Linked DNA regions of Homo sapiens. The protein of the gene in region 3 interacts with the protein of the main gene of each other region in a pairwise test. Each region holds a gene or a part of one and is shown on either strand. Other genes may lie near its edges.

Evidence for each region.
Region 1: the proteins of ASB7 (region 3) and CUL5 interact in binary tests that used the Homo sapiens proteins (3 or more experiments, as listed by UniProt).
Region 2: the proteins of ASB7 (region 3) and HMBOX1 interact in binary tests that used the Homo sapiens proteins (3 or more experiments, as listed by UniProt).

The regions. Positions count from the first base shown.
Region 1 is NC_000011.10:108,092,362-108,096,016, forward strand, and holds part of CUL5 (cullin-5), read left to right. Parts: intron 1-2,029; coding exon 2,030-2,153; intron 2,154-2,450; coding exon 2,451-2,626; intron 2,627-3,168; coding exon 3,169-3,330; intron 3,331-3,655. UniProt on the Homo sapiens protein: Core component of multiple cullin-5-RING E3 ubiquitin-protein ligase complexes (ECS complexes, also named CRL5 complexes), which mediate the ubiquitination and subsequent proteasomal degradation of target proteins.
Region 2 is NC_000008.11:28,966,841-28,970,495, reverse strand, and holds part of HMBOX1 (homeobox-containing protein 1), read right to left. Parts: intron 454-3,655; coding exon 1-453. UniProt on the Homo sapiens protein: Binds directly to 5'-TTAGGG-3' repeats in telomeric DNA. Associates with the telomerase complex at sites of active telomere processing and positively regulates telomere elongation.
Region 3 is NC_000015.10:100,630,026-100,633,680, reverse strand, and holds part of ASB7 (ankyrin repeat and SOCS box protein 7), read right to left. Parts: coding exon 3,639-3,655; coding exon of another isoform or gene 3,631-3,638; exon of another isoform or gene 3,472-3,630; intron 1-3,471. UniProt on the Homo sapiens protein: Probable substrate-recognition component of a SCF-like ECS (Elongin-Cullin-SOCS-box protein) E3 ubiquitin-protein ligase complex which mediates the ubiquitination and subsequent proteasomal degradation of target proteins.

The DNA.
Region 1 (3,655 bases), on a different chromosome or scaffold from region 3:
AAGAGAAATGAAAACATGTTTCATGTAAAAACTTGTAAACAAATGTTCATGGCAAGATTACTAATAATAGTCAAAAAGTGGAAACAACCCAAAATGTCAGTGAGCTAATGAATAAAATGTGATTTATCCATACAATGGAATATTTTTTGTGATAAAAAGGAATAAACTAATAATACATGCTGCAATATTAGGTGAACTTTGAAAACATAATGCTGAGTGAAAGAAGCCAATCCCAAAGACCATATCGTATGATTCCACTAATGTGAAGTGTCCAGAATAGGCAAATCCACAAATTCCAGGAGTTGGGGCCAGGAGGGGAAATGACGAGTGACTGTAAATAGTATGGGGTTTCTTTTTGGGGTGATGAAAATGTTCTAAAATTAGATAGTGGTGATGGTTGCACAGTTCTGTAGATATACTAAACTTCATTACACTGTATATTTTATTTTTATTTTTATTTTTTATATTTTTTTGAGACAGAGTCTCACTTTGTTGCCCAGGCTGGAGTGCAGTGGTGCGATCTTGGCTCACTGCAACTTCTGCCACCCAGGTTCAAGCGATTTTCCTGCCTCAGCCTCCTGAGTAGCTGGGATTACAGGCGCATGCCACCATGCCCAGCTAATTTTTGTATTTTTAGCAGAGATGGGTTTCACCATGTTAGCCAGGCTGGTCTTGAACTCCTGACCTCAGGTGATCCACCCGCCTCAGCCTCCCAAAGTGCTGGGATTACAGGCATGAGCCCAGCCAAATTGTATACTTTAAAATAGTAGATTTTATGGTAGATAAATTATCTGACACAGTAAAGCTGTTAATAAAGAGTAGTTTGAATAGCTTTTGCCTTCTTGTGTAACTTGACAGAGTAAGCATCTTTTCTTTGCCTTGGAGAGTTGTCACACCCCCTGTAATTTGGATGATCTTCTAGCATTTTATCTTTTGGGCTGTCAGTGTCATGAAATACTGAGAATTCCTTTATAGCATTTTTGCCAGGATCACTTCTTCTAGGGTATCTTATCTTTTTTGTCACTCACCACTTTTATCTTTTATGTTGGTAATTTGCTTTCACTAAGTTCCTCAACACTGGCATTGTCAGCCTTACTACCACAGTCAGCTTTCTTCTATAACTCCATTTATGTTCTATTTTATTTTCATTTCCAGCATTATCACTTTTCATTTCCTGTTTACTTTTATATCTTTGCCAATTATCTTGTTTGATTATTCTTTTTTGTAAGTAGTCATGTGGGTTTATTACTGGAAGACAAGGATGCAATGAAACTGCATACTTTGCTGTCTGCAGTTTAACTGAATAAACAAATGACTAATAGGTTGTGTTTACATTTTTTAAAAATTTATTTATTTAATTTTTTCAAGCAACAGGATCTTCTGTTGCCCAGGCTGGAGCGCAGTGACACAATCAGAGCTTAAACTCCTGGGCTCAAGCAATCCACCCACCTCAGCCTTCCGAGTAGCTGGGACTATCTCGGCAGTATGCCGCCATATCCTGCTAACTTTTAAAATTTTTTTGTAGTGATGGGGGTGTCACTGTGTTGCCCAGGCTGGTCTTAAAATCCTGGCTTCAAGTGATCCTCCTGCTTCAGCCTCCCAAAGTGCTAGGATTACACACCATGCCAACTAATAGATTTTGAAAGAAGTATTGTGGTTAGTCATTGTTACTTTTGTCATGATTTGTGGATCAAAGAGCTAGAAATAAAGTTTTTACTTCATGCAGTTAAATTTATTATATAGTGTCAACTGAAAGTTGAGCTTTGTTCTTGGGGAATTGGTATTATTTAACTGTACTGTGGTAACTGAAATTCATACATACTAAAAATGCGCAAAGCAGGGACCCCTTGTAATACCGTATTTTGTTTCTAAGTAGCAAATTTCATAGGTATTAGACAATAAAATTCTAATAAATGAGAAAAATTTTGTATTAAAACATTTAAGACTTAGTTTTTCTATTAAAATTTTTCCCAGTAATATATCAGATTATGTATTTATTACCTCTTCCTTCTTTGGTTTATATTTATAGGAAGTTGGTATGCCAGCGGATTATGTAAACAAGCTTGCTAGAATGTTTCAGGACATAAAAGTATCTGAAGATTTGAACCAAGCTTTTAAGGAAATGCACAAAAATAATAAATTGGCATTACCAGGTATTATTTTATAATTACATGTATATATTTTTTAAACTTAGAAGAATATCTTTGTTTTCCAGTAAATTAAAAATAAACCTCAGCAGTAATAGATCGAAAGATGTTATGAAGTCCATTTCCGTGGAGACAGCTATCAAAGCAGTGTGTTAGATTTACAGATCTTTATTTCAAAACAAAAGGACACTTTTAACAAAATCTTTATAGTCTTATTGATTTTTCACCCAAAGTTACCCTGTATTTATTTTGAATTTTATCCATTGTTAATTTACTTTATATTCCTGATATTCTTCTCTATAGCTGATTCAGTTAATATAAAAATTCTGAATGCTGGCGCCTGGTCAAGAAGTTCTGAGAAAGTCTTTGTCTCACTTCCTACTGAACTGGAGGACTTGATACCGGAAGTAGAAGAATTCTACAAAAAAAATCATAGTGGTAGAAAATTACATTGGCATCATCTCATGTCAAATGGAATTGTAAGTAGATAGTGTGTTAGTTATTTCAGCTTTCAGTTTGGATGAAAGTAGCAGGACTCCGCAGAATTGCTTAAACAAAATAGATTTTTGCCTCTCTCACATGTAAAAGTTTGAGCAGAAATAGTGAATTTTTTTCATGAAGTTGATAGGGACATAGGCTTCTGGTTATACCATCATACTTAAGATACTGCCGTTGTCTACAGAATTCAACATGATCCCAACTATCTCAGTATTCCTGGCAACAGAAAGCAAAAGGTGAGGGTAGCTTACACCTTTCATTAGGGACAACTTCTAGAAGTTTCCTCTGTCATTTTCCATTTGCATCCGCCAGTACTCAGTCACTTGGCCACATTTTGTTACATGGAAAGCTGGGAGATGAGCGTGTATTCTGGGCAGTCATTAACGTCTTCTAAAATGTTTATTACTGTGAAAGAGTGGATACTGGAAGACAGCAACCTTTTTCATATATAAATTCATGTCATAGATATTAAGAGAGAATCATCATGAGATTCTTTATTAAAAATCTGTTTTATCTATTATAGATAACATTTAAGAATGAAGTTGGTCAATATGATTTGGAGGTAACCACGTTTCAGCTCGCTGTATTGTTTGCATGGAACCAAAGACCCAGAGAGAAAATCAGCTTTGAAAATCTTAAGCTTGCAACTGAACTCCCTGATGCTGAACTTAGGAGGACTTTATGGGTTGGTTTATGTTTTTTTGTTTTTAAGACTGTATCCTCTCATGTAGCAGGAAATATATGATTGGCTTGTAATATATTAGTAAATTCATAACAGTTTCAGAATGTCTTATCAAGAAAAATAGAGGCCGGGCACAGTGGATCACGCCTGTAATCCCAGCACTTTGGAAGGCCGAGGTGGGCAGATCACTTGAGGTCAGGAGTTCGAGACCAGCCTAGCCAACATAGTGAAACCCCATCTCTACTAAAAATACAAAAATTAGCTGGGCGTGGTGGTGGGCGCCTGTAATCCCAGCTACTTGGGAGGCTGAGGCAGGAGAATCGCTTGA
Region 2 (3,655 bases), on a different chromosome or scaffold from region 3:
TCTACATCTAGGTCCTCTTCTGAGGCTTCAAAACTGTATGACCTCTGACCCATGCTGTTTGCATGGTAGCGAGTTGGTGACATCTTTCCATTGGATGTAGATAATCGCTCATTATTCTCCCTCCCATTTTGATTGGTAGTGCAAGGCTGTGGGGAAGTATCATAACTGTTGCTAGGTGACGGGGACATTCCCGAATGCTGCGTCTGTGTGGAAGCTGTAGCTGTAGAGGAAGATGCTGGGACATTGTTAGTACTATTCCCATATGAACTTCCTCCATAGCTGGACCTTCTTCCAAACTTGTCACTATGCTCTTGATCAAGACGGTCCAAAGTTTCCAAGGCATGGAGAATTTCATGTTTAGTCATTCCAGTACGCCGAAGTCGCTGAAGCAGATCTATCTGCTCTATGGTAAATCTGGGTTCATCTGTATAATGAGACATGGTTTCCAGCAAACTAAAAAAAAAGAGATAAAAAGAAGTCTCTTTATTGACAGTATCTACCAAAGCACATATTATACAGAATGCTCAGAAGATGCAATATTTCTACATAAGCTTCTGTATTGAAAATGAAGGTATGTCCCATGCTAGAATGATTGTGCCATGGCAAATGGATTGGTACAGATACTAAATGTATTAGTAGGTGAACATAGGTGTAACATAAAACCTAATTTCATATGGCATACAATTTACATTTTCCTCAATTTTGGTAAATATCAGAACCAAAATTTTAGTTATGTAAATAATACCAGAACAATAGATTAGGTACATGGAGTGCAATAAGCCCAGGCTACGTGATAACTCAGAAGTGTTTTGCCCATCTCAAGTGTATTACTCTACATTAGAGTATTAATGGAAAATTACTGAAAAAAATAGTTTGTATTATATTATTTACCAAATATTAGCTAAACAGACCTAGGAATTCTCTACAACCTCATTTAGTGAGAACAAATGATTTGCTAAGCTAAGTCCAAGCAAATGCTAATAACCAGCAAAAATACTTAAGTGGAAAACAGAGGTACATTAAAAAAAAAAATAAGCACCATTTCATTCACTACTTAGCAATTTCCTAAGTTTTCCATCTCTGGTAATGCATTCTCTCTTAATAGCTACCCTGAGAAATAGATCTTTCATGGTTGTAGCCAAACAATGCTATTCATTTTTCTTAGGAAATTACTTTTACATGTTTCCTTTAACTAGCACAAGATACTACAGCACATCAGAAAATGTTTTCTTAGGGTGAGTAACAATATTAAGGGAGTAGTCAAATACTATAAAAATTCTCACTGCTTGAATCCCTTTGTTGTTGTTGTTGTTGTTGTTTTGGATACAGAGTTTTGCTCTTGTCAACCAGGCTGGAGTGCAGTGGCGCAGTCTTGGCTCACTGCAACCTCCACCTCCTGGGTGCAAGCGATTCTCCTGCCTCAACCTCCTGAGTAGCTGGGATTACAGGCACCTGCCACCAAGCCTGGCTACTTTTATATTTTTAGTAGAGATGGGGTTTCAACATGTTGGCCAGGCTGATCTCAAACTCCTGACCTCAGGTGATTCGCCCGCCTCGGCCTCCCAAAGTGCTGGGATTACAGGTGTGAGCCACCATGCTCGGCCTTGAATTCCTTTCTTATAAGACCTGAGTTTTCCATTCAAGATTTTTTAAAGTTGTAATCTCTTCTATTTTGATATTTATTGTTCTAGTGCCAAATATAATGCATGGCATGCAGTAGGCTCTCAATAAGTGTTTGCAGATGGAAACAGATGTCAAGAAATTTCTTCATCTTTCTCAAACAAACATCTGCTCTGGGCCAGTGTCCTATAGCTATTGAAGGTCTCACTGTTTCTTTGTCCTTCTACATGAAAACTTTATTAACAGTCACTTCTAGGCAGGAACTGGGTACGAATTTCACATAACATAATCTCATCCAATTCTCACAGCAACTCCCCATGGTAGATGTTCTTTATTCATTTCATTTTATGTTGATGGATTGATTGTTGAGGAAACTAAAGCTCAGTGTAGTTTTGTACTTCACAAAAAATCTGAGTAAACAGTAGGAAAAAGATTTAAGCCTAGATCTTATTGACTCCAAAAGCACACATCATTCTCCTTTACAATACATTGCAGGACTTAACTGGAAACATATGATTTGGCACACAGGCTATTCTACTCCTTTAAGTCTCATTTAAAGCCATTTAGATAAAACTATTCTAATTACTGATGAACCTAGGGGTCCTAGTAATAGTTTTCTACATTTAAAATCCTTGCTCCATCTAGAATTTTTATTGACTTAACAAGTATAAAAAATTGGGGCTTTATTTCATCCCAAATGGACAGCTAGATGTCGTATGTTTTTACTGAATATCTGTCTTCTCCTCCGATGTGAAATGCTGCCTTTATCATATACACAATTTCCATATGAATCTGCATTACCTTTGGATAGTCTATTCCATTTCACTGATTGTTTTATCTTTCAAATCCTTTTAAAAATAAGTAGGGAAAAATCTAGAACTGTAGATGAAATCTTCCTGGTTTTTAAAACAAGCTCATAAAAATAAAACAAAACCAAACACACACATTCTGTGGACCTAAACATGTTGCAGGCCATTTGTGCCCATGGGCCACAGTATCTGCTCTACACCTACAAATGTTAGGGTCTGATTTCTTCCAATACTCACTTGTAACAAGTTAGCCATGATTTTAAAAAGACCTATTTTCATGATTATTATATTCTTTCTTGATGGCCTAAGTTCCCCCACAATATTTTGTAATGAAAAAAATTAAACATAAACATTATTATTTTCCCTTGAAAATGAAGTAGACCTGTTTGTTGCTATTTTCAGTCTTCATGTTATCAAAGTATTTCATAAAGTGATCTTACTTTAGATGACTTCAATAACTGTTTTATTATATGGACAAAAATCCCCAATCATAGTATTTTCCTATAGTATTCATATCAGAGCAGTTAGTTATCTATATACAGTTCTTCAAACCATTCCTTGTATGGAGCAGCACTCTGTATTAGCATAAAGCAAAAGTAAATTGTATGAATTTCACTTATTACTGAAAAGTATCCATCCTAACACTTGAATTAGAATTGTCAAAACTAAAGATTTCACAGCATATGAAACAATCTAATATTTTGTGTCATTTCAGATTCATTGACTATTAGAACCACTTTTATTCCAAGTCATAAAAGGAGAAACAATAGGCCACCTATTTACTTTGTCTGCTTAGAACACCTCATTCTTTCCAAGCACATGTTCTTGGGCTATCACTCGTAATACCCCACCTTCTGGCCAGTGGGGTGAGCACAGAAGAAAGCCAAACCTTGCTCTCCCCATAATTTTCTAGTCAGACGAGGGGAAAGATGAACAGTCACCATAACTGTGTTCAGTTGCAGGAAGATATTAGTCTGGTAAATTCCTCATTATATGGAAGCAGCTAGTTCATGGGAGGAAGAAGCAGACATACCAAGAAACGTGGAACAGAGCGATGGAGAAAGCTCTGCAGCACTCACATCCCTTGTTCCAATAATCCCTAAGCCCCTGATATATCCCTGCTCTTCTTGCTGTTTTGTTTCATCAGAGAATACATTTCCCTTTATGTATCACCTTGTTCAAATTAGATGTCTGTGCCCTGCACTGAGAGTTTCCTAATGCAAATA
Region 3 (3,655 bases):
CCTTCCTTCCTCCTTCCTTCCTTCCTCCTTCCTTCTTCCTTTCCTTCCTTTCTTCCTTTCTTTCCCTTTCCCCTTTCCTTTCCTCTCTTTCCTCTTTTTTTTCTTGAGAGAGTTTCACTCTTGTCACCCAGGCCGGAGTGCAGTAGCACAATCTTGGCTCACTGCAACCTCTGCCTCCTGGGTTCAAGCGATTCTCCTGCCTCAGCCTTCCAAGTAACTGGGATTACAGGCATGTGCCACCATGCCCGGCTAATTTTTGTATTTTTAGTAGAGATGGGGTTTCACCACGTTGGCCAGGCTGGCCTCAAACTCCTGACCTCAGGTGACCCACCCGCCTCAGCCTCCCAAAGTGCTAGGATTACAGGCATGAGCCACTGCGCCCAGCCGTCACTACCATTTCTACTTGACATCGGTCACACCTTCACTGTTCTCTCTTTAATTTATTCATTCCATTCTTTTTTTTTTTTTTTTGGCTACAAGTAAAAAACCAAAAACTGGCTTCTTATAAACACTGCCAACTAAGCAGGACGCAGCTTTCCTCCCACAGGTGGCGCTCATTATTCAGGCAGGTGCTATGGCTCCTCTTAGCTGTGTTTATCATTCCTGGGCACAGAGAAGTGGCTCCTCCATGGATGGGCCCTGCTGCGCTCCTGACGTCCTGGAAGGGGGAGGTTCTGAGGTCTGAATGCTGGACAGCGGGCTGGCTGTAGGGAACAGCAACAGCAGCTCTTCATGGCCTCTCCCCCTACTCAGCACTAACAAGTCACAAGCAGATGTTAGTTTATTACCAAGCCACGGGTGCGCTCTGTTTTTTTTTTTTTTTTGCACTATATAGATCAGAGTTTTTACGGCAATTTTTCCAAAAGGCCAGAGGAGTTTTTAAATTCTGGTATTATAATTTTTTTGGTCTCTTCCAATTTAAATAATCTGTTTCTAGGCAAAACAGTGTGATGAAGAGTAAAATGTCCCTGAATGAAGACCACCATGTGGCCCCTCTGCTGTCCTTATACCTCGGCAGTCTGCGATCTCCAATCATAAGCCAACAGCATGATGCCTGGGGCTGCGGTGCCCACAGCACGCGGGCTAGAAGAAGCTCTCAGCTTTGATTTAGTGCTCCCTGAACCAACCAACCTTCTTTCAAGCTGCTTTTCATGAGAAAGCTCAGTCCAGAGCATCAGCCACAGCTGCTCCTTCTAGCCCATATTGTTCACCAGGAAAAGAAAACCTATTTAGAGCCAAAGAACACACAGGTGAAGCAGAAACACCAAATTTGCTTTTGGCAGGAAACACCACTGGAGAGTCAAGAAATACTAAATTATGTTGAGGCACCTGAAGACAAAGGACAACTGGAGCCTTAACAGACGGAGGACCCTGCACTCAGGAAAGCAGCCTGTGCTTCCTCAGTCCCCACCCCTCGCTGTGCGCAGTCAGCCAGACTGCCAGGACTACTGAGGACCTCCTAGGCGCACAGCTCTGCTCCTCGTACAGTGGAGAACCTAAGCACAGACAGAGGCAGTCCCCACTGACATTTCTATCTGCTCAAATTTTAAAGTGCATGTGAGTCTTTAACTCAACATTCCTGCTGTCCAACAGCACTGCTAGGGGCAGCTCTGAGGGCTCAGGGACACACGGCAGCCGCCCACGTGCTTGTCCTGCCCAGCGGCTCCTCTCGGCCACGTGGCTGCGTGCCTCCATGTACAGACTCTGGACAGTTGTATACAGGGTTGAAACTGGGAGGCTTGAGTTGAATATGAATCTAAAGATTTGCTCTGTTGGTGGCAAGCCAGTCCTCGCTGTTAATCCCCCCTCACTTTATTAGTTACACACTTCACCTTGAAAAACAATTACAAAGAACAAGAACATTTTAAGTGTTAAGTGCATTATAAATATTAACTCATTTAATCCTCATAACAAGCCTGTATTATCTTAATTTGAAGGTGAGGACACTAAGGCACAGAGAGATTAGGCGACCTGCCCAAGGTCACAGCTAACATGGGATAGAGTTAAGGCTCAAACTCTTGCAGTCTAGCTCTAGTCTATGCCATTAACCACTGAACAAAGTATTTTAAAAAAGGGGGCTGAGGCATTTAAGTGAGTATATAACATGCCTTCCTAAGGGCGGCCACACTCATCATAACTAAGTCTCTAATGTAGAAGTTGAGAGAACAACAACAAGGCAAGCAGGACTGCAGCACTGCGGGTATCACGTCTCCCAACTGTGGCGACTTCTGTGTGTCTCAGAAGCTTTCTGCAATGGAACACCCACCAGTCAGCCCCAGATACCTCTCCCAAGGCAGGCAGATCTGTGTGGACCAACAAAGGAACCACCAGGCACTTGTGGCCATTTAAACTTAAATCGCAATTAAATAAAATTGAAATTTCAGTTCCTCAGTGGCAACGGTCACATTAATAGGTGCTCAGCAGCCACATGGGACCAGTGGCTACTATACTGGACAGCAAGGAGAGACCATTTCCAACATCACAGAAACTGGTACTGGCCAGCACTAAGTAGACTAAGCAGTGTGATTTTTTCTTACGCTTTAGTCTGAAAACATTAGTGATAATAATTGCATCTTTTCTTCCATGAATCTGCAAAATTCAAATTACATTTTGTTTCTTCATAAAGCAAATGTGTACTCCAAAGGCCCGCTCCAAGGGGTAGAGTGGGTTACTTACAAGCAGGTCAGGTAGAGCCCTTGCCCTCTAGTAGCTGGTACCCAGGATGTTAATATGTCCTCTTGTATAATAATGACCGAAGGCTCAAAACCAGTGAGGAAAAAGGAACTCATTAAAAAGTTCAGCAGACAGCAAAATCCATTTTGTTTACAGATTTTAGCTTCATGGTGGACATTAAGCATGAGACACACATTCAACTGGTCACGTGGAAGCTTGACAAGAGAGGATGGCTAAGTACACACAAGCTGATACCCCATCAGAGGAACAACTAGGACGCACGCGTTACTACACAAAGTGGGCCAGACACTTCCAGGCTTTAAAAAAAGCACCCACACAAAAACGTTCAAATACAATGGAAGCCATGTGGTCCAGGGACAGTGGTGCCAAACTTCCCACTGCAAATATTTTCTTACAACAATTTCTAGCATCCTTAACTTCCACGAGTGGTATCCCTAAATACACAGCACCACTGCTCCATTTCATGTGGGCTCTCATGAAGCAGAAAAGCCACAATTAAAACGTGAACAACTTAGCAATAAAGCACAAATTCTAGGATATTTTCACAGGTAAGGAATCTAAGATCCAAAATTCCCCCTCTAACTCCTCAACTTGCAGTCAATGGAAGCCAGGTAAGATTATCCTTATGACCAACAGGAATTGCCTTGTTCTAACACAGATCTTTGTTCATTTAAAAAAAATTCTCCTCTCTGTCCTTCTCTCCATTCCTTCCCTCACTCTTACTGTCTACCCCTATTACATTTAGAAACACAATTGAATTTTTATGAAATCTTGTGATACAGTCAAAGTTTTTTTTTTATTTCAGAAGAATGAGGCATCGCTTACCAAGCAGTGGTTATAGGAATGATTAATATCTAGTCATCTTAAGTTGCAAAAACACATTAAGCTCCTCAGAAGATGCAAATTTTTAAAAAATGCAATAAAGTAATAATTATATTACATACTTGTGACTTCTTGTAAG